Linked DNA regions of Homo sapiens. The protein of the gene in region 3 purifies or fractionates together with the protein of the main gene of each other region. This does not show direct contact. Each region holds a gene or a part of one and is shown on either strand. Other genes may lie near its edges.

Evidence for each region.
Region 1: the proteins of OR13C3 (region 3) and FLG purify together in Homo sapiens (affinity purification with mass spectrometry; one large-scale study listed by BioGRID and IntAct). This does not show direct contact.
Region 2: the proteins of OR13C3 (region 3) and MAP1A purify together in Homo sapiens (affinity purification with mass spectrometry; one large-scale study listed by BioGRID and IntAct). This does not show direct contact.
Region 4: the proteins of OR13C3 (region 3) and ALDH3A1 purify together in Homo sapiens (affinity purification with mass spectrometry; one large-scale study listed by BioGRID and IntAct). This does not show direct contact.
Region 5: the proteins of OR13C3 (region 3) and PUM2 purify together in Homo sapiens (affinity purification with mass spectrometry; one large-scale study listed by BioGRID and IntAct). This does not show direct contact.

The regions. Positions count from the first base shown.
Region 1 is NC_000001.11:152,315,062-152,321,367, reverse strand, and holds part of FLG (filaggrin), read left to right. Parts: intron 1-5,890; 5' UTR 5,891-5,911; coding exon 5,912-6,049; intron 6,050-6,306.
Region 2 is NC_000015.10:43,515,005-43,521,826, forward strand, and holds the start of MAP1A (microtubule-associated protein 1A), read left to right. Parts: upstream 1-2,603; 5' UTR 2,604-2,696; intron 2,697-5,636; coding exon of another isoform or gene 5,637-5,719; intron 5,720-5,967; coding exon of another isoform or gene 5,968-6,108; intron 6,109-6,319; coding exon of another isoform or gene 6,320-6,469; coding exon 6,470-6,822. UniProt on the Homo sapiens protein: Structural protein involved in the filamentous cross-bridging between microtubules and other skeletal elements.
Region 3 is NC_000009.12:104,533,440-104,539,288, reverse strand, and holds OR13C3 (olfactory receptor 13C3), read left to right. Parts: upstream 1-2,432; 5' UTR 2,433-2,565; coding exon 2,566-3,519; 3' UTR 3,520-3,540; downstream 3,541-5,849. UniProt on the Homo sapiens protein: Odorant receptor.
Region 4 is NC_000017.11:19,740,178-19,746,483, reverse strand, and holds part of ALDH3A1 (aldehyde dehydrogenase, dimeric NADP-preferring), read left to right. Parts: intron 1-871; exon of another isoform or gene 872-1,349; 5' UTR 1,350-1,354; coding exon 1,355-1,516; exon of another isoform or gene 1,517-2,914; intron 2,915-3,020; coding exon 3,021-3,252; coding exon of another isoform or gene 3,253-3,853; coding exon 3,854-3,939; intron 3,940-4,271; coding exon 4,272-4,480; intron 4,481-5,273; coding exon 5,274-5,391; intron 5,392-6,006; coding exon 6,007-6,148; intron 6,149-6,306. UniProt on the Homo sapiens protein: ALDHs play a major role in the detoxification of alcohol-derived acetaldehyde. They are involved in the metabolism of corticosteroids, biogenic amines, neurotransmitters, and lipid peroxidation.
Region 5 is NC_000002.12:20,342,753-20,349,058, forward strand, and holds part of PUM2 (pumilio homolog 2), read right to left. Parts: intron 1-6,306. UniProt on the Homo sapiens protein: Sequence-specific RNA-binding protein that acts as a post-transcriptional repressor by binding the 3'-UTR of mRNA targets.

The DNA.
Region 1 (6,306 bases), on a different chromosome or scaffold from region 3:
CTAAATTTTCTTTCTCTTTTATTAATTTTAGTTATCTTTATTATTTCCTTCATTATACTTTCTTAGGGCTTAATTTGTTCTTTTTAAAACTTCTTGAAATATATGCTTAGGTAATTAATTTTTCAGTCTTTCATATACATATATATACACACACAACTGTATGCTGCTTATAAGATTCACACATAAAAAATGATAACAGTGATTGAAAATGAAAGGATGGGAAAAAGAGATATCATTCATATATATATGTATGTGTTTATATACATATATATGTGAGTGTATATATGTATATATGTGTGTGTGTATATATATATAGGCTATAAATATCTATTAGGCATGGAATTAATGTATTCCACAAGTTATGCTATTTCATATTTTTCTCATTTTCATTTAGTTCAAAATATTTTCTAATTTTGCATTGTAATTTATTCAATGACCCATTGATTATTTAGAAGTCATTAATTTTCAAACACTTAAAGATTTTTCTAGTTATCTTCCTATTATTTAATGCTTGCTTCATTCCACTGTGTTAGAGAACAAACTCTATGATTTCAACCCTTTAAAATTTATTGAAACTTGCTTTATGGCCCAGTATATGGTCAATTTCAAAAGAATGGATATTCTGCAGTTGTTAGGTGTAGTGTTCAATGTATGTTGATGTTTTATTAATAATTTTGTAGAAATATTCTACATTCTTACATATTTTTTACTTCTTCTATCAGTTGCTGAGAGAAGTGTATTTAAATACCCCACTATGATTGTAGATTGCCTGGTCCTCCTTATACTTCTGTCGATTTTTATTTATGTATTTTGAGGCTTCCTGGAGAATTGATCTTTTATTATTATAAAATTTCCTTCTAGCAATATTTTTTGCCTTAAAGTCTGCTTGACAGATATGAATATAATAATAACAGCTTTCTTTTAGTGTTTGAATGGTATCTCTTTCTTCCACCCTTTCATTTACAATCATTTTAATCACATTTTATGTGTGTCTCTTATAAGCAGAATACAGTTGGTTTTTTTTAATCCAGTCTGACAGCCTTGTCCCTTAATTAGCATATTTACTCTATTTATATTCAGAGTTATTATGGAACTATTTGGTTTACATCTCTACAATATTACTACTTGGTTTCTACTATCTCACCTGTTCTGTATTTCTTTTTCTATTCTTGACTTTTTTGGATTAAGTTAATATTTACCAGTTAATTATCTTTATACAAAAGCTTATTAATTATACACTCTTTTATTATTATCTGCATCCTTGCCCTAAAAATTATAGCATGCATCCTTGATTTGTTAGGGTATATTATTAAGAAAAAAATACTTTAACCCCTACCCAAATAATACAAGTATCCTACAATACTTAACTCCATTTTCTCACTGCCTTATCTGGGATTGTTATGTATTTTAATTCTATTTATCTTAAATCCTGAAAGATTACTATTATTATTTTATGCAATCAATATCTAGCTATATTTTTCCACACATATGCTCTTTCCATTGTTCTTATTCTTTCTTGCTCCTCTGTGCTTCCAACTAGAATTATCCTTTAATATTTCCTTTACAGTAGGTCTCTGGTGATTAGCTCTGTTTTTCTTTGCTTGAAAATATCTTTACATGTTTTCTTTTTGGTGGATATTTTCACTGTTAACATATAACTTATTTTGCTTCAGAAAGATGAATATAACATTTCATCGTCTTTTAGCTTCCATTGTTTCTTTTGAAAAGACAAGTATCAATCTTATTGTCGCTCCTTTGAAGGTAATACAAGTGTTTCTCTGTCTGCTCTTAGGATTTCCTCATTGCCTCAAATGTTCAGCAGTTTTATTATTATATGTCTTGCTTTGGTTTTCTTTTATATCTCCTGCTTGGAGTTTATAATATCGTTTTGAACCTGTACCTTGATATCTTTCATCAGTTTTAGAAAATTTTGTCTTTTAATTCCCCAAATACTATATTTCCCTCTAAATCTGAATGTAAGCCCCAATAAATTGTCACAATCTTGATAGCTCTGTGATACCTTCAAACACACACACACACACACACACACACACACACATTTTCTAGTTGTATTCAGAGTTAGTCTGAAACTAATAAACAATTGCACAAAGCAATCTTTAAAAATCAAACCATATTAGATCACTCTCTTACCAAAAAATATCATCTAGTCTCATCACACCTAAAATAAAATGCACAAATGTCACCTTATTTAGAAGATCATTATCTGACCCGTCTGTATCTCTGACTTTATGTTGTATTACTCCTGCTTTGTCCACAATTTTCTAACTGAGTTGGTCTTTTTCTATATCTCTAACATGACAAGCTGATTTTCATCTTGGAATCTTTGCACTGTTCCTTGTGCTAAAATTCTCTAATTAACAAGGCTACTTCCTTCTTATTTTTCCATTTTAAGTTCAAATGTCCCCTCTACCACAAAACCTCCTTTCCTTAAAGTACCCCCAAATATTCTGTATAATAGCACTCTTATTTTAGTTATGTACATATCACTTATCAATATCTAATTGTTGAATTAATTTATTGTTTGTTTATTGTCTTCACAAAAGTAGGCAGGCACCTCATCTATCTTGTTCACTACTATATCTCCAAAGCATGAAACAGTGCCTAACCCTTTAGTAGCTGTTCAATACTTGTTAAATAAATGAAGGAATGAATGAATGAATGTAAGCTCTGAGAAAAGGTTATGCCTAGAGGTATCAATTTTGAAGTCATCAGATAGATGGTATCTGAAGTGATGGGATCCAATGACATTGCCTCAGAAAGGAGTGTAGATTTTTTTTAAAAAGAAGGTCTAAGACACAGCCACAGATATTTCCAACCTTTTGAGATTGAGTAGAAGAGAGGTTAGTAAAGAATACTGAGAGACAACAGCATTCAATGGGTAAGAGGAATATCAGAAGAATATGGTGTCATGAGATCCAAGAAAAAAAGACTCCATTAAGAAAGGAATGGTTAATTCTATTTCACATACCAAGAGATTAAGTAAGATGATGATGATGAGGTAATGATGGAGAAATGACACTGTATTCAACAACTTGGAGATCACAGATGATTTGACACAAAGCAGTTTCAGTAGAGTTTGGTGATAGAAAATTGAGAGAAGCAGGTTAAAAAGAAAGTGGGTGGTAAACATTTTAAGAGAGAAAGCAGAGAAAACTTCTCCAAGACTCCTGTGAAATGAAGCAGTTAATTAGGCTAGTAAGATGTTAGGAGAAATGTTGGGGGAGGGTGGAATAATGGTTCGAGGGAAGGGTTTTAAGATGGAAGATACTCCAGCATGTTTCTGTGGTGATAAAAATAAACTACTAGAGAAGGAAACAGAGTGAAGTAGGGAAAACTGACTAATTTTAGGGATATTTTGAAAGTAGGATCAATAAAACATGTTGATGGAATAGATATTGGATGTAAGAAAAGGAGAATCAACTAATTTTCAGGTTTACGACTTGAGCCATCAGGAAGACAGGAATAACTGATGAGGATAACGGGTGTGCGACATTTTTAGGGTAAAGCAGTTGAAAATCAAGACTTCTGTTTTGAACATAATAGATTTAAGATCTCTACAAGACTCAAGTAGAAATACTGGATAGGCATTTAGACATACACATCTCAAGTTTAGGGGACAGTCAGTGACTGGGGGTATAAACTTGTGAGTTGCCAACTTATTTAAAAAGTTATATAGAACTAGATGAGATGACCCGAGGGAGTATAATAAAGAAAAGAAGCTAAGGAGTGAATCATAGGGCATAGCAACATTAGGAGCTGAACGAGGAGGCTAAGAAAAAAGTGGCCATTGAGGTTGGAGGAGAAACTTGAGAGTGCCAGGTCTCTGAAGAAGGATGAAGCCAGTTGCATCAAATGCTGCTGATATGTCAAGTAATATGTAAAATAAAAATGGATATGTGGATTTGGAAATATGAAGGATATTTTTTACTTGGTGAGAGTTTTAATACATTTTTTAGAAAGAAAAATACCTTGAGTAAAGGAAAACAAGAATGAGGAAGTAAAGACAGAATGTATAGGCATATCTTTTGAGGAATTTTGCTATAAAAGGGAACAGATAAATCAGATGGTACCTAAAGGCAGATGTGAGATTGAGGGTGGGGTGGAGATGGGAAGGTAAGTGTTAGATAGATATTTCAGCATGAATATATATTGAAGGGAATGATCCAGTAGACAAAGAAGAATTAATGATGCATATGAGAAAGTAGGCAACTGCAAAAGCAAAGTGTTTGGGTAGGCAAGAGAGAGTGGGGCTCAGTGCCAAAGTAAAGGACAGGAGGAGCACAGACTGTTTATTACCCTAAATAAAGTGAAGGCAAGGTATATGGATAGAAATGTAGTAGGTTGGGAGATCAGATATTAGGAGAATGAGGAAACTCTTTTCCAATGGCTTCCAAGTTCTCAGGAATCAAAATCAAGGACATCAGAGATAAAGGAAAGAAGAAGTTGTTGAAGCTTTGGCCAGTGGGTATAAGAAAAAGTAGGACAAGTGGATGTATCCAAGGGGCATTTGGGGAGATTAAACATAATGTCTAACCAAGGTAAAAAGGGAAGTGAGTACATAAAGCAGTAAATAGAGAGGTTAAAGAATTATTGACATCAGCGTACAAGAGAAGGTCAAAGAGTGAGATCCTTCAGAAAGAGATTTTGCATATGTTGCAAGTAACGATAAGTTCAGAGAATACAATATCATCATAAATAAGACTGGCTGAAAATAATCATAAACTTTAAAATGCATTTGTAAGAAGCATATACCTGTAATTTTTTAAATTCAATCTTTACAATCTATATTTTAACTGGCAAGATATGGTCTATTTTACATGTATTGTAATTAGTAATAATAAAATTATTTGTAATTCTATTAATTTATTTTATGCTTTCTGTTTACCCTTCTTTTTCTATGCTTCTTATTTTCTTCTTTCCTGGCTTCTGTTGAATTATTAAAGTTTCTTAATTCCCCTTTTTCATCTCTAATGGTTTAGAAATTATAAATTCTATTATTTTAGTAAATACCCATAAACTTACCCAAATACATATATCACTTAACCACAGCAAAATTCATTAATATCTAATTCCTCTTACCAAACAAACCAAGGTCCAAAAATGTTTTAGTTGTGACTGCTACAGTAATCTCCTTCACATTGTTTTCTACAGTATTTTAGTTTCACCTGGTTTTGTAAGTCCTAATAAAGTTATAATTCTTTATATAATACACACTTAGATTTATTGACATGCTTACTAATTTCTTCACCAATGAGATAAACTGAACATTCCTTAAATGGCAAAATGAAACCCAGTCAGAAAAACCTTTCTCTTTAAATATTGAAGAGCTATTAAATCCATCCTATACAATGAAATATTATAAACTTCATGAAATGTTTAAAAAACAAATAAAAAATTGAATGAACTTTCATTGAGTATCTTGTCATATGGCTAACTGGCTTTCAGAGAATTGTGTCTTAGCAAATTAATCATTTATTAAGTTAGCTTTTGGGGAAGTAATTTTCAGTAAATTTGTATAAGTAAATTTTACTGCTTAAAACCAGTCAGCCTTTCTAAATTCTTGTTGCTAGCAATGGCAAGATCAGCAAGAGGGATGATCTTACCTAGAGCACACTGAGGTCTGTGAGACTACTAAGTCCAGCTGTAAGTGGGCACAAGGCCAAAAAATGGGCAATTTTATTTAAGTCAGGAAAACTCTATTCATTTGTTTTATGTAGATGGTAGAGAAAAGTTTCTCATGTCCATCTTCCATTCTTAAAGATGGATTACTTAGAGGAAAATGTAGGTTTAAAATGTGGAAAATGATTGTAATAATATAACCTAGAAAAAAAGATGTATAAAAAAGTGCATTTTCATTTCTTCTTTCTAGGTTCACATTTATTGCCAAAAGATGTCTACTCTCCTGGAAAACATCTTTGCCATAATTAATCTTTTCAAGCAATATTCAAAAAAAGATAAAAACACTGACACATTGAGTAAAAAAGAGCTGAAGGAACTTCTGGAAAAGGAATTTCGGCAAATCCTGAAGGTAAGAGTCTCTGACAAGACCAAAGATAGAGCATTTGTTTTTCTCATCAATAATCTAAGCAAGGGTTATTTTGAGCTCTTTGTGAACTATTTCTCTTAAAATAGGAAAAGAGTTAATCTTGTCTCAAAAGAGATAGATTTTATTTTCTTCCCCTATACCTGGATGTATATTATAAACATAAAGACACCCTCAGAGAAAAAAATATAAATATTTAAAAATTAATGTAAATTAGTTCTTAGTATTTTGGTATTTATAAT
Region 2 (6,822 bases), on a different chromosome or scaffold from region 3:
TAGGAGTTTGAGACCAGCCTGGACAACATGTTGAAACCCTCTTCTACTAAAAATACAAAAATTAGCCGAGGGTGGTGGTGCACACCTGTAATCCCAGCTACTCGGGAGGCAGGAGAATTGCTTGAACCCAGGAGACAGAGGTTGCAGTGAGCTGAGATCATGACATTGCAGTCCAGCCTGGGCGACAGAGCTAGACTCCATCTCAATAAATAAATAAATAAAAATACAGGCTGAGGGACCAGTCTGGAGGCCTTCGGTCTGACTCTCCATTTCCACTGACGGACTTAGGAAGTGATAGCTCTATTACTTCTACCAATACAACAGTTACCCTGAATTAATACAGCAGCTCATTAACCCCTGGAACCGGGGTCTGCATTGCTGTCTGAAATGGGAAAGCAAGGACATGAATAGGACTTCAAATCTCATACTGCAGGCATCTTTAGTTCTGGGTTTACCTGGGAGCTAAGAGTACTCCAGAGTTGATCTGGTCTGAGATCCTGATTTATGATTTCCTTGATCACCTAGATGACCTCTCAGAAATCTTCCACAAAAGGGAGAAAGACTTCCAGTGGCATTTGTACATTGCAGATTTGGAAGTCTAGGAATGAAGAAGCTTTTTTTTCATCTTTTATACAATTCAAACCTCACAGCATTATCGGAGGATGGTACTAATATTATACTCATTTCATAGTTTATGAAGTAGGCTCTGAGAGAGGTTAAGTCTCTTGTTTAGCAGCATGATTAGTAAAATGGTGGATCAAGTCTCAAATCCAGGGTTTCATATCTTACTTTGTAGCTCAGCTCAAGCCTCTCTTTCTTCTTTGGCATCTCACCATTTCATTGCAGCAGAGCCTAGGAATACAGCAGGTGGAGAGTTGGTTGTGGTGGGTAGCTGTTCAGAGGGTGAAGGCTGAAGGAAAACTCCACTGTGAGTTGGCACCATGCCCAGGGTGTGGCCCTTGGGGGTGGCAGCTGAGAATATGGGTGGGCTCTGTATTGGTCTGGGAAATGTTATTTTGTTCGTAAACTAAATGTCTACTTAAGTTTCCCTCCTAACACACTCCAGAAAGCCCTAGAAAGCAGGGAGGAGATAGAAGGCTTGAGGTGGGAGGAAATAAGAACGATGAAGTTGCAGAAGAGGGGTATTTCCCTTTTGTGATGCTCAGAACTCAGCCTGGTTTTCCCTGTGTATCTCTGCAGATGGCCGCTTCTACCCAAACGGGGTTGTTGCCATTGTCGCAGATTTGCATCCCCGGATCTAAGCAAGGATTGCTCCCCTTTTGTCCCCTCAACCCCCAAGAGTACTAGTGACTCAGCTCCTCCTCTCCTCTGGCTGCAATTAAGGGGGGATGGGGGATGCTGAGAGCACAGACTATTTTGGCTTCTCTGACCTTCAAAAGTAACTCTTGGCAGCCTGGGGCAAGGGTGGGGCTAGTGTTTGGGTGTGAGTGGGTGGCTGTGATTGTGAGGAAGGCCTTAGGAGCTGGCCAAACTGGGGAGGGTGGATGGGAAGAGGGCAGGGAAGGACTATGTAAGAGCATGAGCATCCTCGGGTTGGAAGGAAGTGCTACCACTCTCCAGATTCTTCCTTTGAGTCCTAGAGCGCTTTACTAAATCTGAGATGGAGGTAGAGACTAAGGGAAACAGGATCAACATTAGAAAGATCCAAATAATATAATATAGAAACAGCAAAGAGACAAGGAGAGAGCAAGAACCCAATCACCCTACAAAGTCATTATAGGGTTTTTTTAATCTAAAGAGTACTTCTGTTACATTTAATAATTGGCCTACAACCTTGCTTGGGCCGGAGGCCCTGGTGATCCTTCTTGGTCCTTGTTAACTCCTTCACTGTAAGGCAGAAAGCTCCCTGTCCCTTCAGGGACTTGTCTCTTCATATCCAATGACTCAAGAATCCCAAGAATCAGTGCCTGTGTGGTTACTGTGTTATGCTGCATTCCCATGAAACTTCATGTAGCTCTCAGGGTCCCTGTGCCCCACCCCAACAGGCTAGGGACCATGTGTCCACTCCGGAATTTCAAACTACCCTCTAACCCTAAAATAAGACTTATTTCTGCCCTCCTTGGTTTCTGTAGTGCTGAGGTTCAGAAGAAGGCAGCACATCTCTGCATCCCCAACCTTTGTCTTAAGCAGTTCCCCACACCTACCCCATGCTTTTGGGCCCCCAGCCTTTGTCTCCTGCTCCTCCAGGGACTGAAGGTCACTCCCTGGATCCATCTGAGGAGAGAGGCAGCAGATGGTTTCTAAGAGAAGGGGGAGAGCCCACGCAGCCCATGCCTCCTATAGCCTCGCTCTGTGCCCTAGCATGGGGCTTTGGTCTTTTGGCTGATGCCAAAAGAATATTTCCTAACTAAGCAGGGTTGGGAGAGAAAGGTCCTATGGGCCATAGGACATTGCAGAGGCTCCTTGAGCTGCTAGACAATCCCTCAGCCCCACAGAGCCAAGCAAAAGCACTGGAGCTCAGACGTCGTGAAGGCAAAGAAACAGTTAAGTCTCCAGTGCCTCGTCACGGACCAGCCCCTCTTCCCCGCCCTGGCGCCGCCCTCCTCATCAAGCACCCCCCTCCCCCCCCCACCGCCCGCCCCACTCCCACCCTAAGTGCTGCAGACTCTTCCCTGAAGCTGCCGGCTGAGGCCGGAGCTGCCGCCTCCATGAGAGGCTTCCTCCTACACCCCAGGGTAAGAACCGAACCAAAGGGCTTGGCATGTGGGGGTACACTGTGATAGGGAGGTGGGATGGGGGTCATGGAAAGGGTGCTGGTACCTAATCTGGCACATCTAGAACTAGCCCAGTGGCAGTAGGCAGGATGGGGAAATGGAGAGAGAAGATGAACGTTACTGGCTGTGGGCCCAGCCTGGACCCAGAACCAGAGGCCACCAGGGGCTGTGACAGTCCACCTCTCCAGCTGGGCGGGGATGGGAGAAATCAGCCTGGGACAGCAGCAGAGGGTGGTGCCACTGGCTCTGCCTGACAGCCCAGGATGCTGGAGGAGTTTGGGGGCTATGTTTCTGGTCAGAGGCAGAAGAATCTGAGAGAAAGGGGGATGTTATGGGAATGTGCCTAATAGGAGGGCCCCTGGGTGTCAGCTGCTGGATTGCTCAGCTGCTCCTATGCTGGGGGTGAGCAGGGCAGTGAGTTTTTGCCAAGTAAGGGAAGGTGGGGGACACTATGGAAAAGAAGGGAGGAAAGGGTCACTAAGACGTGGCACGCGCCTCCTTACAGACCAACCGGTTTGCAGTGGGCTCCCCCACCCTATTCCCTGCGGCTAGCTTTAGAATGGGACTCTAAACCCCCCTTTCTGGCCCTGCCGAGGCCACTCTGGAGACGGAGAACTCCCTCCCCAGCGGCTGCCCTGCATTTCCAGTCGTGTCAACCCCACAGGTTCCCAGTCTCAGCCCTACCCCCACCTCATCTCTGCTTCTCTTCCCAAGATGGGGGCTCTTGAACAGAGGAGCCAGTTTCTTCTCTCTCTCTGCATCCCCCCATCCCCACCCCCCATGCAGAAGCAGCCAAGAAAATGACTTGTCATGCTGGGGTGGGGGGTGGGGGCGGAGCTGGAGCCGGAGCTCAGCGCGCACACTCACACACTGCGGCAAACTGCAGCTGCCCAAACGGTCCCCCTCCCCTTCTGCCTCACTGCGGAGACACCTGCCCTCCTGCCTGCTCAGCCTCTGCACCGCAGCCCACCCCCCCCCGCAACTCCAGCACTGGCTGAGCACTGTGTGTCCCTGCCTCACAAGATGGTCCTCTCTAAAGAAAAAGGAAAAAACGAGTCAGTTCCCTTCAGTGAGAGAGCCAGGGGAGCAGAAGAAACGGCTTTCTCCCAGGCCTGAAAAAGAGAGGCACAGGATATAAACCATGTAATTTCAAGTCAGAACCACTCCCAGGGATAGAGTGAGGAACAGGACCTTATGCCAGGACAGGAACTGGGATCATAGAAGTCTTGTGGTGATAAATGGGGACCGTGAGGAATGGTTGGGGGCAGGGAGGGGTAGATAGAAAGCAAATCAGTGTGTGCTATAGATATTTGTCTTTCTGACCCTCCTACCTCAAATTTATGACCTTATTTGTGTGGAGGGAGCTCTTGTCTTTCTAAATCTGAACGACTTAAGGCTGGCAGCTTCCCGAACCTTGATATCCCTCACCTGCCCCAAGCCCTGCCCTTGCCTACATCTGAGGTGGCTCTTGTCCTCTGAATTTATCTCAAATGTTCCCTCAATTCTCAAGTAAATAGAAGGGAACCCTTGAATTCCCCTTTGGCCCAACCCACGCTGTATGGGGTTTGGTCTTCTGACACCATCGTTCATTTCCCCCACAGCTGCATCTGCAGCCCTGTGCTGCCAGATCTGCCTGATCCTGGCACCATGGCTCTGCCTCTTAACAAAGGCCCTGGCCCCAGGCTTCTCTTGTCCAAGCACCAGAAAGAAGAGAGAGCTGGGTCACAGAAGAGGGTCTAAGGGACAAATTATGGACCCTCCCACCAGTATCCTCCAGACAGCCCACTGCCATCTGTTGGATGCTCTGTGAGGTTAATGCCACTATGTACTGCAATTGGAAAGGGGATTTGGCAAGGAAGGGCGGGTGCAGGGGATGGCAGCATTCTTCTTCAGCATCTTCTGTCTCATTTGCCACTTTCTTTCTTTGCTGAATTGTTTGGTGTTTCATGTGAGGCTGGAGAAGGGAAATAGGGGATTTGGGGATGCCTTATCTTTCTCCATGGCCTGGGGAACACCCTGAATCTCTCCTTCCTTATTAATGTGTTTCTTGTTCAAGAACCTTTCACTCCCCATGCCCGTGGTAGAGGCCCCTAGGAGCGGGGCAAAGATGAGAGAAGAAACTGTTCACAATGAATAGGTTGTGGGGTAGTGAATCTGGCCTCTCTGAAACTTTGGGACATGAAGATCAGGTTGGAGAGGGTGTTGTGAAAACTTCCGAGCAGGAACAATATGATTGTGTGCATGTGTATTAGTGCGGGCTTGGCCTCTGAGGAACCAGAGGACAGAAAATGAAGTTATAGTCCTATGTCCATTCTTTGAATCATAAAACCCCAAAAATTTAGATAGCACAGGCTTCTCCGGGTCTTCTGGAACAGGAATTCTGGCCTTGGATGGCAAGAAGGGTGGGGAGTCTGTACCACACAGAAGCTCCTATTTCCTTATTTCTAGACACTCTGCGGGCAGGAAAGCCCAGGGCAGAGGCAAGCCAGGAAGGAGAAAGGGAAGTGAGGGTCATCATCCCAGGGGCCCTCTCTCCAGCTGAGCCCCCCATCCCCAGGCAGCACCAGGAGCTTAGTGCTCGAGAAGGACAAAAGCTTCTTGTCAATAGGGCAGTCTGAGGCCATAGTTCCAGGCAGAGGGATGGGGGCACAGGCAGCAGAGGGTGTGGTAGATGAAGGGAAGGAGAGGACAGCCAGTGTGGGAGAGGGGAGGTGGAAACCCTCTAAGGGAAGGGCTGGATGAGCCAGTTCCTAGACCTTACTCAGCAGTATCCAAGGTGGCAGGGCCTAAGGATACCTTCTCTTTCGTCTAAGCCCCATTTCCTGATAGCACATTCTTTCCTCTCCTGCACCACAATTTCTATACCTATTCTCAATATAAATTCCTACATCTCTCCCTCAGGCCAGAGGACCCTTTGCCACCAGAGTGAGATCCTAGAGACCATCATCCTGGTAAATCCCAGTGCAGACAGCATCAGCTCTGAGGTAAGGCCAGGGCCTGTGCCTTGCCAAACAGGCCTGGTGCAAGTGCTATACCCACCCTTGCCAGTGCTACCACTATTAGGCCAAGAATTCCTCTCTCTGCCATCTAAGCTGACGTATTGTCTCCAGCCCACTCTGGAGGTGTTATGAGGGACATAAGTTGGGAGCATGTTCTTGAGGTACTGAGGGGCCATTCATTGCCTTTCCCTGGATTTCCTATATCTGTGACCACTCCCCTTCTTCCATTCCAGGTTCATCATCTTCTTAGCAGCTCATCAGCTTATAAACTACTAATCTTGAGTGGGCAAAGTTTAGAGCCTGGGGGAGACCTCATCCTACAGAGTGGCACCTACTCATATGAAAACTTTGCCCAGGTCCTTCACAACCCCGAGGTAAGTTCCATGCCAGAGTGTCTGGGAGAAAGGGTAGCACTAGAGCTGTGGGAGGGATCTAAGGGAAAGTCTCATATTGCATGACCATGGGGGGCCCTGGCAGAAAGGTAAGAGTCCACCTTGGAAAGAGGTGAAGATTAGGGTACTGAATCTAAGTCAGACCAAAACAACTCTAGTGACCTGATCAGGTTTCTATCTCCTATTCTTCTAGATTTCCCAATTGCTCAGCAATAGAGACCCTGGGATACAGGCCTTCCTTACCGTGTCCTGCTTAGGGGAAGGTGATTGGAGCCACCTGGGATTATCCAGTTCCCAAGAGACCCTGCACCTCCGGCTAAACCCTGAGCCCACTCTGCCCACCATGGACGGCGTGGCTGAGTTCTCCGAGTATGTCTCTGAGACTGTGGACGTGCCATCCCCATTTGACCTACTAGAGCCCCCCACCTCAGGGGGCTTCCTCAAGCTCTCCAAGCCTTGTTGCTACATCTTCCCAGGTGGTCGTGGGGACTCTGCCCTCTTTGCTGTCAATGGTTTCAACATCCTGGTGGATGGTGGCTCTGATCGCAAGTCCTGTTTTTGGAAGCTGGTACGGCACTTGGACCGCATTGACTCGGTGCTACTCACACACATTGGGGCAGACAACCTGCCAGGCATCAATGGACTACTGCAGCGCAAAGTGGCAGAGCTAGAGGAGGAGCAGTCCCAGGGCTCTAG
Region 3 (5,849 bases):
TCCCTGCTTCGTTTCCCTCCTTCTCTCTCTTCTTAAAGCTGAATAATAAAAATTAACAATCTATTGTGGGCTCATTTTTTTTTGTCTTTAAGATTGAGATTGTATATTCTCTTCCTTGCCTTTCTCTTCAAAGTTTAAATATTTCTATTGTGTATCCTTAACTAAATTTTTCCTATAGTAAAGATTCTGTTGAGTTGGATTTCTGACTCCTAGTAATATCTGCTCTACACAAAACTTCCCAGTGACTATCATGTGACCAACAGTCACAGTGTGGGGAAGAGTGGATGTGCTAACATTCTCAAAGCTATTAGCCCATGCAAAACCTACATTTGTGATTTTGACCAAAATTAAATCTAGTAGTGATTATAGAAAGATCAATTATCATGCCTATTCTGTAATTAGTGACAACTCCGCTAATCTAAATGCTTTAATTCCCTGAGTTACATTTCTACTAAAAAATCTTGTAACACCATATTCTATGAGGTCAAATTTAGAGAACTGCTAAAGTCTAATGGGCGAGGTGCTTACCCCATGCTCTGTGCTTTCTAATGATAGACCTCTTTTCCACCAAAAGAAATGACACTTTTTCTGCCTGATTTTAGAGCCTTTCTATATGCACCTGTCAGGCTTTCTTTCTCAGATGTGTTTCCCACCACTCTTTCACAGAAACTCCCTTGTGCTGCCAGTCGGCTTACTCCTAACTTTGGTCCAACTTCTCACTTTTGAGATATCCCTTTTCTCTTTTAACCCTGTCTAATTCTTTTCCATACTCCCAGGTTCAGCTGAACACTGAAACTCCGGAGTTCTCCTTGGCCTAATTTATTTCTCATAAAATTCTTCCTTCTGGGAAAAACTGTAATTTTCATGTAAGCTATAGAAAGTGACTGTAAATTATTTTGATATGTTCTTTTCTTATATCCCTACCTAAATTGTGAACTTTGTAATGACAGGCACTTTAAAAATGCTGCTTTTTAAAAATATGTGTTTCAATAATATTTTTAAAGGGTATTTTAAAAAATGGTGTCAATCTGGAGTTTCCGTAAAACATCAAAGAATTATGCTCTTGACATTTTCAAGGTTCTTATTGCCAATCTACACAATAAGGCAAAAAAAACTGGCTTGAATTAGAAACATCTAGATAATTGGCCAACTTAGTATAGACTAAGCCTTGCTACTCAAGTGATTTTGGGACCAGTGGCATAAGCGTCACCTGGGCACCTGCAAGAAATGCAGAATCTCAGGACTGGCCTGAACACTAAAAGAGAATCTGAAGGTTTTTAGGTTTCCCAGATGTTTGCCGGGTGTGGTGGCTCATGCCTATAATCCCAGCATTTTGGGAGGCTGAGGTGGGCAGATCACAATGTCAAGAGATGGAGACCATCCTGGCCAATATAGTGAAACCCCGTCTCTACTAAAAATACAAAAGTTAGCTGGGCATGGTGGTGCACGCCTGTAGGTGGAGGTTGCAGTCAGCCCCGATCGTGCCACTGCACTCCAGCCTGGTGACAGAGTGAGACTCTGTCTCAAAAAAGAAAAAAAAATTCCTAGATGCTTTACGTGTATATGAAAATTAGTGAAGCCAAGAACTAGACTTTGTGTCGAAAATATTAGCTTTACATTACATTTTATTATTTACTACCTAGTTAATCTTGGCCAAGTTCCATATTTTATAGTTGAAAAATGGGGTTAATATAAAGAATATTATAATTTGTAAATGGTAAAGTGGTATACATACACATGTATACATATTTATATGAAATATTTAAACATTATTACTGTTTTTATTGGTTGATTTAAATGAGTAAATTATCAAGACAGACTCTTAAGCTACAGAGTAAAATATGTAAAGACACTATATAATGTTCTCCAAAGACTATCACATTCATGCGGAGCTGTTCTGGGCAATGGTCTTGTCATAGGAACAGTCATAACAAGATACTATGAGATCAACAACTAACTATGCCTTTAAACAATTGTCAAATTTCAGGGTATGTGATTCAATGTATTATTATTAAGTGTCTGTAAAATACACAATTAAACTAACTATAAGGTATTAGTATCAGGCCTAGAAAAAAATATAAACACACAAAAATGTCAAAGTTGCTGTGAAATTTTAAACACTTTATAAATTGCTGAATTAAAATTCCAGTCTTTGTTGAGTAGTCTTTTGCCCCCTTTACTGCTTGTTTGCTGGGGTTGATGAAATGAAGATGTTAAGCTTAGAGTTGTTGATTGGCCAGGGGTTTTAGAAACCTCAGCTCGGGAGAGTGTCCTCAACTCAGGAACATGTCCTCAACAGCAGGAAAGGTTCCGTCTGCATGTGTGTCTGATCGTGGGTAGATCTTCACATATTGGCGATGCGGTATAGGTGCTTCCATCATTCCCAATTTCATTGTATTCTAGTCACACACATTACTGAAGATAACTGGATGTCAGAACTTCAAGCAAGCACTCCTTCTAATATGTGTCAAAAGAATGATTGTTCAGTTAATTTGTACTGTTTGTTTCTTGGCAGTAAATACATTTCATGTTAGATCTTCTTTTGATTTCCTGAAAGCAGATGACATGGGTGAGATTAACCAGACACTTGTGTCAGAATTTCTTCTTCTGGGTCTTTCTGGATACCCAAAGATTGAGATTGTTTACTTTGCTCTCATTCTAGTTATGTACCTAGTGATTCTAATTGGCAATGGTGTTCTAATCATAGCCAGCATCTTTGATTCTCATTTTCACACACCAATGTACTTCTTCCTGGGCAACCTCTCTTTCCTGGATATCTGCTATACATCCTCCTCTGTTCCCTCAACATTGGTGAGCTTAATCTCAAAGAAAAGAAACATTTCCTTCTCTGGATGTGCAGTGCAGATGTTCTTTGGGTTTGCAATGGGGTCAACAGAATGTCTGCTTCTTGGCATGATGGCATTTGATCGTTATGTGGCCATCTGCAACCCACTGAGATACCCCATCATCCTGAGCAAGGTGGCGTATGTATTGATGGCTTCTGTGTCCTGGCTGTCCGGTGGAATAAATTCAGCTGTGCAAACATTACTTGCCATGAGACTGCCTTTCTGTGGGAATAATATTATCAATCATTTCGCATGTGAAATATTAGCTGTCCTCAAGCTGGCCTGTGCTGATATATCCCTCAATATTATCACCATGGTGATATCAAATATGGCCTTCCTGGTTCTTCCACTGATGGTCATTTTTTTCTCCTATATGTTCATCCTCTACACCATCTTGCAAATGAATTCAGCCACAGGAAGACGCAAGGCATTTTCCACGTGCTCAGCTCACCTGACTGTGGTGATCATATTTTACGGTACCATCTTCTTTATGTATGCGAAACCGAAGTCTCAAGACCTGATTGGGGAAGAAAAATTGCAAGCATTAGACAAGCTCATTTCTCTGTTTTATGGGGTAGTGACACCCATGCTGAATCCTATACTCTATAGCTTGAGAAATAAGGATGTAAAAGCTGCTGTAAAATATTTGCTGAACAAAAAACCAATTCACTAATGAAACCAGGACATGTAGGTCTTTGTTTAACAGTCACAAAGATGGACTCTTAGGTAAATCAGCCTGAACCTTTTTTGGAGAAACCATGGTTAGAGAGACAGATTTTTATCCTTTGCCTTTACTAGCCCTGCTCATCTAGAATCACTGATAACTATAGTTTGCTACAAACTCCAGCATGCCCTGATCCACGTTTCACAAACATAATTAATTCTCTTAGAATCTCATCCCTTGTGATGTCTGAAATGAGTGTTTCTGTGTAGAAACATAGTGGAAAACAATCACACTATAAGCTTTGGAAATAGAGAGCAATAGTACAAAATCTGCAGTTCCGTAAACTACCTAGGTGATATTGGATAGATTATTCTTTCTTTCTAAGACATAGTTACCTTACTTGTAATAAGGAAATAAAATAATAAAAAAATCCAGGTCCCAATATCATTTAATGTTTCAATAAGTTGGAGGAAGCACCTAACATAATACTGGCTTCACAGTGTCCAAGAATTTCAGAATTGAAGCTAAGACTCCATAGTGAGGACTAAAAGTTGCTATTTATCCCCTCTTTTACTCTCAGCTAATAATTACTAGAGCCAGATGTCTCACTGAAAGTCACCCCATTAAGGTAATATTTTCTAAAATTTTAAAATTCAATATTTTCTAAAATTCTAAAAAAAATAAAAAAGAATTAAAAAAAGAAAAATTGGCCACCTCCCAAATATATCATTCTAATGTTTCTCTTAGTAAGTAGGAATCATGTATTCATCATGTTTTTATTTTGATTTATTAGATCTACTATGAGCACTTGGGCCAAATTTTTTTTTAATGTCCAACACATGTTTTCACAGGATAAATTCTAAGGCATGAAATTAATAGGCCAGGTGGTATAAACTTTTAAAGTTCCTGGCTAACTTACCATTGGAAAGGTCGTATTACTACCCTAAATACCATTATATGTTTCCCCCAATATGTTTGCAGCTCTATTTAAATACATACGCATACACACATATATCTCCATTTATACATACACACATTTGTGTTTATATATATATAAGAATATTTTTTCTTTAAAACATTTTTTTGAGAATTTTCATTTTCAAATATTTAACAAAAGAATGAGAATAATGAAAGTCAATGTATAATTGCACAGCTTAAATAATTACACATGGTCAACCTTCTTTCATCATTATCCATACCCACTTATCTTCTTCCTTTACTTTAAAGCAAATTCTGGACATAATTACATCATGTTATATATTATGTAATTATGTCCAGGACATCTGTGTGTGTACATATTTAAATGACACAAATCCAACGATCCCCATTCACATTGTAGTCTATGAGAATGCACTTCCAGAACACAAGTTGTGATATGAATGATGCCTCCTCCAATTAAGAATAAGACAGTGCTGGTGAGGACTGTGAACCATGAAAAGGGCACATGAGTCACATAAAAGACGTTATTTCTTACTTCAGTGGGTTGTTGCCATAAGATAATTCAGGATGTATATTGACTGATTTTCTAAATTTCAAGAAAAGCCTGGACATCATAGTGAGACCATGTCTCTACAAAAAATTAAAAATTAAAAATTAATCAGGTATGATGATGCACGGCTATGGTCCCATTTACTTGGGAGGCTGAGATGGGAGGATCACGTGAGCCCAGGAATCCAAGGCTGCAGTGAGCTATGATTGTGCCACTGCACTCCAGCCTGGGTGACAGAGCAAGACCCCATCTCTTAAAAAGAAATTAATACATTTCGAGATAGGCCAGATTTTTAAATTAAGCATTGCAACATTTACCCAGGGTTGGCTATTTTACAGAACACATGTGATTCCAGATTGTGTACTCATGTAAGTCTTTAAGAGAGATACAGGACATGGTCATGATACAGGAGGAAGAAATTTCAGTCCAAAAAGGAGAGTTCTGAAAACTTCAATCATACTTTCCAGGCCACTTTTGAGAAACTGTCTTTTAGAACAATTCAATCAATGTTGAATTCTACACCAAATACATTGTTGTTAACTGCTTATTGCTTAAATAGAGTTTGAGTGTATATTTTGAACCCCAAATGTTGATCTTCCTAGGTTACTGTCATACTGTAGTAGTAACGTCCAAATGTATCTTAGAGTATGCCAAAGAGCTTCTCATAGGCTCCTTTTATAGCTACAATTACTTCTCCTTTCCTCCACTTTTAATTTATTTTACTTAGATTATCTTCCCTGGAGTAGGACTGTTAGGTTCAGCTAGAGAACTGACATAAAGTTGCCAGCAATATAAACCCTTTATCAATTCTGTTATATTGGAGTAGAGTTGGATAACTGCAAGCATATAG
Region 4 (6,306 bases), on a different chromosome or scaffold from region 3:
TACCGCTTCCACTGACAGCCTCTTGACTTCTAGCAAATCTCACTAACCTTGCCTTACCTCCTACCACTAATCTAATAGGAGAACTCTGTGATTATGGCTCCATTCTCCCGGTCAAAGTGCTGGAGTGCAATGGCCCAATCTCGGCCCACTGCAACCTCCTCCTCTCAGCTTGGTTCAAGCAATTCTCCTGCCTCAGCCTCCCAAGTAGCTGGGACTACAGGTGCCTGCCACCACTCCCAGATAATTTTTGTATTTTTAGTAGAGACAGGGTTTCACCATGTTGGCCAGGCTGGTTTTGAACTTCTGACCTCAGGTGACCCGCCCACCTCAGCCTCCCAAAGTGTTTGCTAGGATTATAGGCGTGAGCCACCGCGCCCGGCCTGTAACCTGTTTTCTTTCTTATCCCCAGTGCCTGAGACACCCCTGGTGCAGAGAGAGCCCCTACAAACATGCTGAATAGCCTGCTCCACCTAATCCCTAAATACTGCACAGTAAACCCTTACGTGGGTGTGACAGGAGTCATTTAAACTGTCTCCTTTCTTTCGGATCTTTGGGATGTTTACAATACTTCCCTGTTATAGAAAACAGTGATGACTTTCTTATTCGTGAATGTTTAGGAAAGGCTGTAGGACCTTTTCGTCACAGAGAAGTATGTTTGAAAAACTTTTGCCACATATTGCCAAATTGCCCCCAGCAGGGCCATCCCGATTTGCCACTATACTTTCGTGTATTGGTAGCAGGAATCGCCTCCACACCTCTTTGTGGAAATCTGCAGCTCTCTGAATCCTTGGCGGGCATGGGCGTGCGTCTCCCAGGTGTGGCACGCGTGGTTTACACACCAAGCCTGGTTCAGCTCTGCCAAGAAACCAGCGCTTTTTAGAACAATGGCTTAGCCAGGAGGGTGGTGCTGGGTTTTTCTTTATCGGCTTGGGTGTGGAATCGCGGACTGCGCCCCTCCAATCTGATCTGGAGAGTGGCTGACTGCGTGTGCAGAGCTCTGGGGGTGTTGGTCTGGGATTGTGCCATCAGCTTTGCAAGCAAGTAAGGGAGCGGAAAAGGCCGGGAAAGGCCCTGCCGCGAGCACGCTGCCAAGAGCCCCCAGCAGCAGTTCGGCTTAGGACTCGGGTTGCGGCGGGTGTCACCTTCTCAGGGGCTAGCAAGGCAGCCAGGGCCCAGGCGTCTGAGTGAGGGGCGGGAGAGGAGGCGAGGCAGAAAGTGGACCTTCCAGCGGAAAGGCCATTTTCCCCAAGGCCGAGCCCAGGGAAGTCCCTTCCTATAGAATTCAGGCAGGGTGGGAGGCAGGGCGCGCTCGTGCCCCTCAGCCAGCTGCAGGTGCTCTCTGTCCCCAGGCGCCATGAGCAAGATCAGCGAGGCCGTGAAGCGCGCCCGCGCCGCCTTCAGCTCGGGCAGGACCCGTCCGCTGCAGTTCCGGATCCAGCAGCTGGAGGCGCTGCAGCGCCTGATCCAGGAGCAGGAGCAGGAGCTGGTGGGCGCGCTGGCCGCAGACCTGCACAAGGTGCTCAGGCTGGGCGGCCGCCTTCTGCCAGTGTCGGGGCCATGCGATGGGGCGTGGGGGGAGGGGCTGGGGAGAGTGCGACCCAGAGAGGTTCAGGAAGGACTTGGGGCCACCTGGCCCCTCGGTCGCGGAGACTGGGCGCACCGCCCTCCCCTCCGCCGCGCCCCGCGCGCCCCCGCCGCCTCTTCCGCCCTCTGGCCTTTTCCTCCTGGCCCGGCCTCCGCGTCCCGCCCGCAGCGTCCCCCATTTCAACTTCCTGCTGCCCCGACACCCTGAACTTCTGGTCCTCCCCATTCCTCAGCCCCACGCAGGACCACTTGGTTCTCCACACCAGGAACCAGAGCAGCTTGGCACCCCGGAGGGCATGGGGGGCTCTCCCCTCCCTCCCAGTTCTCACAGGGGCTGTTCCGTCCCTCACCCTGAGCAAGACCAGACACCTCTGCATTCGCAGCCCCCTGCTGTCCCCACATGCTGCCTGGGGTCCAGCGCTCCGGAGCCCATCCTCCCACCGACTACCCTCTTTGCTCCTGCACTTTTATTTTTATTTTATTTTATTTATTTATTTGAGACAGAGTCTCGCTCTGTCGCCCAGGCTGGAGTGTAATGGCGCGATCTCGGCTCACTGCAACCTCCGCCTCCCGGGTTCAGGCAATTCTCCTGCCTCAGCCTCCCCAGTAGCTGGGACAACAGGCGTGTACCACCATGCCCGGCTAATTTTGTATTTTTAGTAGAGACAGGGTTTCGCCATGTTGGACAGGCTGGTCTTGAACTCCTGCCCTCAGGAGTTCCTCAGGAGGAGTTCTCGGCCTCTCAGAGTGCTGGGATTACAGGCATGAGCCACAGCGCCGGGCCTGCTACTGCACTTTTCAAGAAATGGCTCAGGACTTCTCATCTTAAACCAGAAACAACAAGGAAACCCATTCTGTTGACTTTACAGCTTCTGTGTTGCTCTTCACAGCCCAAGTTTATAAAAGAGACGCGTTTTCCGCCGTCTGCATCTCCTCTTCTCACCCCTGCTCCCCACAGGAGGCCCTGAGCGCCCAGCAGCCCTTGGTCCTGCATCCCCCTCCAGACAACTAAAGGGCCTGGCTCCCTCCACCCTGCCCGGATCCAGCTCCCAGTGCCCGAATCTATCCCCCCTCCCCGGATCCATCCCCCCCTCCCCGGATCCATTCCCACTGCCTGAATCTACTCTCCCCTGCCCGGCTCTATTCCCCCTACCTGGATCCATTCCGTTGCCCATGCCTGGTCCCTTCACCGGCTCTCTCCCCTGGGGCCGCAAACCTACCTGGGCCCCCCTCTGGCAGAAAGGGGTCCTCTCAGACCCACAGGTCCAACGGCTAATCCTGGCTCTGCTTCCCCTGGGAGCCTTCTGCGGCTGCCCCCACCCTGGGCTGGGTGAGTGACCCCCATCACCCTGGCAGCTGAGCAGTGGGGCTCCCCACTCGCCCCAGCTGCAGGCGGGCCCTGGCCCTGGAAGCTCACTCCGGCTCTGTCGCTGCAGAATGAATGGAACGCCTACTATGAGGAGGTGGTGTACGTCCTAGAGGAGATCGAGTACATGATCCAGAAGCTCCCTGAGTGGGCCGCGGATGAGCCCGTGGAGAAGACGCCCCAGACTCAGCAGGACGAGCTCTACATCCACTCGGAGCCACTGGGCGTGGTCCTCGTCATTGGCACCTGGAACTACCCCTTCAACCTCACCATCCAGCCCATGGTGGGCGCCATCGCTGCAGGTGCATGGCCCTGTGGGAAGGGAAGCTGGGGGAGCACCGTCCCCCAGCGTGGAGCCAAGCCAGGATGGGCTCAGGCCTGTGTTAAGAGTCCTGGGGTCAGATAAGGGTTTGCTGGGTCTGTCACAGGAGGCTGTGGGGACCAAGCTGTTTAGCCAGGCCTCTTGGTGCCTGAGGTCCAGTCAGGCTCAGGTGTCCACACCTGGTGATACAGAGAGGGCCTGCCTTCCCCCACCCCTGTTGGGGGGCTGGAGCTTCTGTCACCTAATATGCATCAGGGCTTCCTTCCTAGAATGGGCCAGCGCTGTTCTACCAACCGGGCCCCCAGAGCCTCTCTCCCCTTTCTGCTTTTCCTCCAACATCTCAGCAACTCAGAGGGCCAGGTGGTGCAGCTCTGGCCAGCGTGTGCCCGTGTGTGTCCCTCTGTCATGTGCCCGTGCGTGCTCCTGGGTGTGCCCCGTGACATGTGCTTGTTTGCTAACAACTCTTCCATCCACTGTCCCGAGGACACACAATGGAGGGGAGGCTTCAGGTGTGGTCCTTGGGAGGGCAGAGCCTCTGGTGAAGTACCCTGGGCATAGGCCTGGCTCGGTGTGCTCTGCAGGGAACTCAGTGGTCCTCAAGCCCTCGGAGCTGAGTGAGAACATGGCGAGCCTGCTGGCTACCATCATCCCCCAGTACCTGGACAAGGTGAGTTGCCCTCCAGGGCCTCGTAACTCCATGGCCTCATAACTGAGCTAGGGCCAGGTCTTTGGGGGGTGAGAAATAGTGAATTCTTGCAGCAAGGGGCCAAGCTACTGGTGGGGCTGAGGATTGTTCTTAGCAGCTGCCCTCTCTCATTGGGGTGAACAGAGCCCCTGGGCCAGGAAAGGCGGTCTACTGCCAGTTACTGCTACCCCCCGCCCAAGGTGGGGTGCTGAGCTTCGGGGCTGCTGGTCTTGGCCACTGCAACTCACCCACACTTGCAAGAGCGAGGAGGGGCTTGGTCTTTGCTGAGCCTCCCCTCTCTCCTTGCATGGAAGGATCTGTACCCAGTAATCAATGGGGGTGTCCCTGAGACCACGGAGCTGCTCAAGGAGAGGTTCGACCATATCCTGTACACGGGCAGCACGGGGGTGGGGAAGATCATCATGACGGCTGCTGCCAAGCACCTGACCCCTGTCACGCTGGAGCTGGGAGGGAAGAGTCCCTGCTACGTGGACAAGAACTGTGACCTGGACGTGGCCTGCCGGTGAGAGGCACGGGCCTGCTGGCTGCAGCAGTCCTTACTCTGCTTTCCAAGCACACATGACTGCACCTCATGCTGTGGGTCCACTCTGAGTAACACAGACACCCCCTGCCTCATGGAGCAGTGGTCCTTGCAGAAACTTACATGGGGGTAGGGGTGGGGACCACATGCACAGAAGACGTGTGGGGAGTCCCAGAAGGCTTCCTGGAGGGGGAGAGGTCTAGGCTGAGCTCTGTTTGCTGAGTGCGCATCACTGGGGAAGTGGTACTCCAAGCAGAGGCTGCAGAAAAAGCAGCTGTGGGACGTTCAGGACACAAGGAACTGTACTGGGTTCAGCCCTCTGATGGGGCAGGGCAATCTGAGTTCTGGAGAGCAGGCCCAGAGGGGAGAAGGGCCACCGCTGCTCGGGGTCTGGGGCAGAACCCGTATCTGCACCTCCTGACCCTAGCCAGGGCTCTGACCACCTCCATATCCCACATCTGTGGCCCCAGAGATGTAGGGGGGCCCGAGTAGCAGTGACACCTGGCTGTGCAGGACAAGGGCGTGATCAGGGAGCACGGAGGTTGCCCTCAACAGACGTCCTCTAGAAATTCCCCACCAGTCGCCGGTGAACATGATCAGGGCCATTGGGTCTGCTCGGTCCAGTGTCTAGAAGTGAGCAGACCGCTTGGGAGGACTCACTGGTGGCAAGGTCACAGCCGATGGCTTCTGCTGACCAGAGAGCTCAGGGGTCTGCAAAACGAGATGCAACTCCTGGGGAACCTTTTGGATTTAGTCCAGTCTGGGATTCTCACAGACGCATCGCCTGGGGGAAATTCATGAACAGTGGCCAGACCTGCGTGGCCCCTGACTACATCCTCTGTGACCCCTCGATCCAGAACCAAATTGTGGAGAAGCTCAAGAAGTCACTGAAAGTGAGTGTTGACCCCTTGGCAGGGTGGGATGAGAGGCTGTAAGGCACAAGGGGGGCCTGGCCCCTTAACCAACTTCTACAGATTTGGAAACACTGGATTTATTTTCTTCTAATATAAACATAATGCAAGCTAGGCATGGTGGCTCACACCGGTAATCCCAGCACTTTGGGAGGTAGAGAGTGGAGGATCACTTGAGGCCAGAAGTTTGAGACCAGCCTGGGTAACATAGCAAGATCCCATCTTTACAAAATATGTTTTTAAATTAGCCAAGCATGGTGGCATGGTGGTGCATGCCTGTTGTCTCAGCTACTTAGAAGGCTACGGCGAGGCTGGAGCATTGCTTGGGCCCAGGAGTTTGAGGCTGCAGTGAGCTATGATTGCACCACTGCACTCCAGCCTGGGCAACAGAACAAGACCCTGTCTCTAAGAGAAAAAAAAAAGATAATGCACACTCACTATAGATTATTTAGAAAAGATTAAAAAGCATAAAGAAGAAAAAAGCTCCACCCAGAATCCCACCACCCAAAGACAGACACTGCTGGCCTGTGTCTGTGCAGCCTTTGGGCAGGACGAGGCTCTGCGTCCTTACCCGAAGCCCCCACCTCTTCTCCACAGGAGTTCTACGGGGAAGATGCTAAGAAATCCCGGGACTATGGAAGAATCATTAGTGCCCGGCACTTCCAGAGGGTGATGGGCCTGATTGAGGGCCAGAAGGTGGCTTATGGGGGCACCGGGGATGCCGCCACTCGCTACATAGGTGCGTGACCCCTGAAGAGCACAGCCCACCTGCCCAGGCTGCAGGGGTCCCCAGCAAGTTCACAGCAAGTGGGCACAGATGCTTGATAAGCGGACACGACCTCGGGATGGGTATAAATTGCTTTCACCAGGGAGCCTGCGGTAGACTCCAGCAGGCAG
Region 5 (6,306 bases), on a different chromosome or scaffold from region 3:
TGAATTGCGGTTTTTAAAGTTCCTCAAGTAATCAAGAACAAGCTTTGAATTGGTTAACTTTAAAGTGAGATGAAATGACCAAGCCAATTTCCTAAAGATACTTAAGTTTTAAAAAGGCAAGTTATTACATCAAAAACACCACCAAACATCTAGGTAGAAATGTATGGAGAGAAACCAAATCTGTGTTAGTTTCAAGGATTAAGTATTAAATCATATATATATTTATAGACAGGGTCTTACTCTGTCACCCAGGCTAGAGTGCGGTGGTGCCTTCACAGCCTCCAAACCTGGGCTCAAGCAATCCTCCTGCCTCAACCTCTAGGGTTACAGTAGTGCCACACTATGCCCAGCTAAATTATATATTTTTAAAAGAGTCTGTGTTTAAAAAAAAATTGAGTATAATTTAAATAAACTTACTTTATTCACTTAAGCAAATGTTTGGAAGACGGCAGACTATCTTAAAGGAAATATACAATAAAACAAACAAAAAAATTAGCTGGGTGTACTGGTACATGCCTGTGGTCCCAGCTACTCAAGAGGCTGAGGTGGAAGGATCACTAGAGCGAGGGAGGTGAAGGCTGCAGTGAGTCATGTTCACACCACTCCACTCCAGCCTGGGTGACACCACTGCACTCCAGCCTGGATGACAGAGACCCTGCCTCAAATTAAAAAAAAGTTTCTAAATAAAAATAACTAAGTAATTTATTAAATAAAATAGCAAATAAACTAGTAAGTTTAAAGCTAACCAGTTGTGCTAGTAATTGTACAAACAGTAGGTATGTACAATTCTCATTAGCCAGAGAAAGAAATCATACCAAACCCTTGGATGCAACCTTATTCCTAACACTAAGCTTTAAAAGAAATTTCTGTTGGGCATGGTGGCTTGGACCTATAATCCCAGCACTTTAGGAGGCCAAGACAGGAGGATTGCTTTAGTCCAGGAATTCGAGACCACATGGGGCAACAAATTCGAGACTAGCCAAGGCAACATAGTGAGACCTTGTCTCTACAAATAATAACAAAATAACTAGTTGGGTATGATGTTGTGCGCCTGTAATGCCAGCTCCTCAGGAGGCTGAAGTCAGAGAACTGCTTGAGACTGGGCAGTTGAGGCTGCAGTGAGCAGTGACTGCACCACTGCACTCCAGCCCCAGCAACACGATGAGACACCCGCCCTCATCCCAGTATCAGAGAAAAAAAAAGCAATTTCTTAGATGGAGCATTATTGAGGCAACAGAGTTGTAATAGAAAATATCTTCAACATTACCATTAACAGATACAAGGTTTCATAGTATCATTTTACTTTATTTTATTTTACTTTATTTTATTTTTTGAGACAGGGCCTCACTCTGTTGCCCATGCTGCAGTGCAGTGGCTCGATCTTGGCTCACTGCAATCTCTACCTCTTGGGATCAAGAGATCCTCGCGCCTCAGCCTCCCAGGTAGCTGGGACTACAGACGCGAGCCACCATGCCCAGCTAATTTTTGCATTTCTTATTGAGATGGGGTTTCACCACGTTGCCCAGGCTGGTCTCAAATGCCTGAGCTCAAGCAGTCCACCTGCCACGGCCTCCCAAAGCGTTAGGCGCCCAGCCTCATAGTCTTTCTTACAGTCAGTTCCTCAAGGAAAAGTCAAATACCTAACTCCTAATATAATCCAGGAAAACTAACTACACAGTAATTCTCTAAGGCTTTCAAGGACACCATGATTGTCTATATCTTCCTAAATTATAATCCTGGACTGTCCATATTAGATAAAGGACTTCAATCTGGTGGGCTTCTACCTATCTCTCCTATCTCTCTTTTGTCACCCTCCTCCCTATAACTGCACCTTAAACTCTTGTCATTCTACCCTATCAGGATTACTACGGCTATTAATCCCTCTGGCTGAATGCCACCTCACCCATCTCGGGACTAAATTAACTTCTATAACATTTTAAGATTCCGCAGCTGGGCACAGTGGCTCACACCTGTAATCCCAGCACTTTGGGAGGCTGAGGCCGGCGGATCACGAGGTCAGGAGATGGAGACCATCCTGGCTAACATGGTGAAACCCCGTCTCTACTAAAAATACAAAAAAAATAGCAGGGCTTCGTGGCGGGCGCCTGTAGTCCCAGCTACTCAGGAGGCTGAGGCAGGAGAAGGGCGTGAACCCGGGAGGCGGAGCTTGCAGTGAGTTGTGATAGTGCCACTGCACTCCAGCCAGAGCAACGGAGGGAGACTCTGTCTCAAAAAAAAAAAAAAAAAAAAAAGAAAAGAAGATTCCGCTTTACCTCTTGTGGAAAGCTTTTCCTGTCCCTGCAGTCTCTACCTACATGTGTCCACAGCACTTTTTTCTTTTTTTTTTTTTTGCGGCGGGGCCGGGGAGACAGGGCCTCCCTCTGTCGCCCAGTCTGGAGTGCAGCGGCACGATCACAACTCACTGCAGCCTCAGTCTCCTGGATTCAAGTGACCTTCCCACCTCATTCCCACCTCAGCCTCCCAAATAGCTTGGACTGTAAGTGCGTGCCACCATGCCAGACTAATTTTTTAATTTTTTTAGAGACAAGGTCTCCCTATGCTGGCCAGGCTGGTCTTGAATTCCTGGACTCAAGTGATCGTCCCGCCTCAGTCTCCCAAAGTGTTGAGATTACAGGCATGGGCCACGTGCCCACACCACAGCACTTTTATAATACCACCTCAGTGGCAGGCTAGCATGCTGCACTGTAATCACAAGTTTAATCTTCTCTCCACTTTCCTATAAAGGTCTTAAAAACAAGGACCACATATCACCGTATCACCAGCATCTAAGGACAGTGTGGCACGATACATCTGCAACGCTCAAAAAAAAAATGTGTGGGGCGAGGCACAGTGGCTCACGCCTGTAATCCCAGCATTTTGGGAGGATGAAGCAGGTGGATCACTTGAGGTCAGGAGTTCAAGACCAGCCTGGCCAACAGTGAAACCCCATCTCTTCCAAAAATACAAAAATTAGCCGGGCATGGTGGTGGGCGCCTGTAATCCCAGCTTCTTGGGAGGCTGAGGCAGGAGAATCGGTTGAACCTGGGAGGCGGAGGTTGCAGTGAGCCGAGATCACGCCATTGTACTCCAGCCTGGGCAACAAGAGCGAAACTCTGTCTCCAAAAAACTTGTGCAGGTATTTTAGCGTGATGAAAAGACACAATTTTAATATTCAGACTACAAATGGACTGAATGTCCATACTCCATGAATATTTTCTCAACCACGATTCTGAAAGAACTGGCAAACAATTTACCTTTAGCAAGAGCGTAGAGCACTCCTATTCTTGCTAGTGTAGGATGCACATAATTTAGATATTAAGACGAGGGCACCTAAGACTCTCCTTTGGAAAAAAAGTAATAAATTACACTTCCATTGAAAGGTGGTCCAAGAAAACACCTATAGGCAAAACCTGGAGCCACTATCCTCTCAACTTCAAAACATAATTCTGTTCATGTTGAATTGGTTTTAAAGATTCAAGTTTTATCATAGATAACTGAATGTTTTTGCATGTAATCATGCTAAAACTACCGATAAGCTACTATGGAGATGTTCTTAATAAACTAACTTAAAAATGACATGGTCAAGAAAATGGAAGATACAAGTAGTTCCAATCTGTATACATTTTTGGTATTTATAAAAATCATACAATACAATCCACATTTTTTTCTTCCTACAGTTTGCTTCATTTGACTGCCTAATAAAGACCTATACTTAGGGGCACTCTCCCTCTAACACTCATTTGCCTTATTTCATGTCTGAATGAATAAGACCAATTGCATCTTTCTCTCACTGATCTTAAGTTTTTCAGAAACTGCCTAAAGTCAGGGATCACCACTTTGAGATCCAGAACTTCTTACTCTTGTCATAAGATGGCTACTACAATAAGATAGATCAAAGAGCTGTCCTCAAACCAGGTTTCCTCCATTAGTGTATTTTTCCCCAGAACTAAAAAAATGTAAATAATCCTTCCCTACCGCCCCGCCATGACCACATTGTATGTGTGTTGGCAGCCAGCTACAGGTTCCATTTCCCTGGGCAGTACTGACTAAGTGGTTTTGAGTACAATTTCATAGCCAATTGTACCAAGTCCCTTCCAGGAAACATTTTAGGGGGCTTCTGTGGTCCCAACATATTTAGCTCCAAATAGGTGATGACTACCTTTTTTTTCCTGTCCCATTTGCAGTCAATCAAACCATCTAACACTTCAATTACCTCCCTTCTCCTTTTACACTTCATGCTACTTCTTTTTTTGCACTTGCCAGCTACAGTGATATGCATACAAGGTGTGTACATTTTGATATTTCCCAGTACTCTATTCTAAAATCTTTTATTCCTCCACAAGAGAACAGTGAGAGAGTAAGATGTGAAAATCAACAATATGCAATACGCAACCTGAAAATGGTTGGGATCCAGTAGCTAAACTTGCAGAATGGAACTTACTAATGAAACTATGCTTTTGCCAACAGCTTAAATAAACAATCTGTTTAAAAATTCTCTAAAGCACTTAAGACCATAAAAAGGAACCAGCCAAAGGTCAAATAAAACTTTTAATATTTGTGTTTAATTAGGCGTGTCTTGATTTTTCATTTAAAAAGATAACTCTCGAGTTATTTGAAGAAAAAGTCACTAAGGAAAAAAAACACTAACATGTCTCTAAACATAATGCTACATGAAACTCAAAGAAAAAGCATTTATCACGCACCTACCTAATAATTCTATACAGCGTTTCACTCACTGGAAAAGCTTGAAAATAGAAAACTTCCACTTTTTCAACTACAAAAGCAATTAAGTTTTAAATAAAAACTGTCTCCTGTCTATATATATTGCCAAATATAAAAATCACTATTAAAATATTAGCTCCTAAATGATAGGGTTTGAGGAAACCTTTTTCCACAACAGAATTCCGAACTGACTGAAAGACACAGTAGTTGGACTTGTGTTAATCCAAAGATTTCCTTTACTACTGATAAAACCACAGTGGAGGCATAATTTAGACCTAGGCCAAGTGGGCTTCCAAACACACTCCATAATTATTCTAACCCAGTCACAAGTAGCACTGGACAACTACTGTCCTCTGGAAATGGGGAGTCTAACTTTGGTAGTCACATGAAAAAGCAGGGCAAATTAAGTGCTTTCTGCAGGGAGAAGACTCCCAGAGAGAAAGCGAGGAAGGGGCTCTGCCATATTTCATCAGCGTTCCCTCTTACAAACTCATCAAAGCGAAGTGAGGAGGCAGGACAAAACGAACAAGTCAGACTATTTTAATGCATTTCCTAAAAACAGCAAGGGTCTGGCACCGGGGCTCATGCTTTTAATACCAACATTTTGGGAGGCCAAGGCGGGAGAACTGCTTGAGCCCAGGAGTTTGAGACCAGCCTGGGCAACACAGCAAGACCTCACCTATATTAAAAATTAATAATAATAATAATAATAATAAAGAAAAAAAGCAAGAAATCTTAATATGCCACAGACCAATTTACCTGGCTATAAGTGTAATTTTTATCTTAATCACACCTGTTAGTAAAATGGTCTCAAGCTGTGATTGCAGCCATGTAGACAAAGCCATGTGAGACTCAAATATTCGGATATTTTAAATATCTGTAAATTTTAAGAATATGAAAAAATACAAGTATTTCCATATCCTGGAAACCCAACAAGGTATTTAAGTTAGGACGTATGTAGAACTTGAGTTTAGGAGACAGGAATCAACCTCCACTTAAAACTATGCAGATCATGTTAGGGTCTATAAAAAGGAGACAGCTTGGTCACTGAGAAAATTGGCTGTGGATTTCACACCTGGCCCAAATCTCTGGTCATAATTACTTTTGTTAACTAAGATAAGTACCTACTCCGGAAGGCAAATTATCTTTCCACACCAGAAAGGTTTATAAACAAGCCGGGTGTGGTGGCTCACGCCTGTAATCCCGGCACTCTGGGAGGGCGAGGCGGGAGGATCGCTTGAGATCGGAGTTCAGCCCAGGAAACACAGTGAGACCCTGTCTCTACAAAAAATGCAAAAATTAGCCGGGCGTGGTGGCGTGCGCCTGTACCCCCAGCTACAGTTACTCGGAAGGCTCAGGTGGAAGAACAGTTGCAGCCCGGGACGCGGAGGCTGCAGTGAGCCCAGATCTCACCACCTGCACTGCAGTCTGGGCGACAGAACCAGACCCTGTCTCAAACAAGAAAAAAAGATTCATAAACAAGTATGGAATGCTTGAGAGAAACAAAATCCAAGTATTATTTGGTAATTTATATACAGTATTTGTAATGCCTGAGAATTTATTCTAAAGTGACAGCTTTGTAAG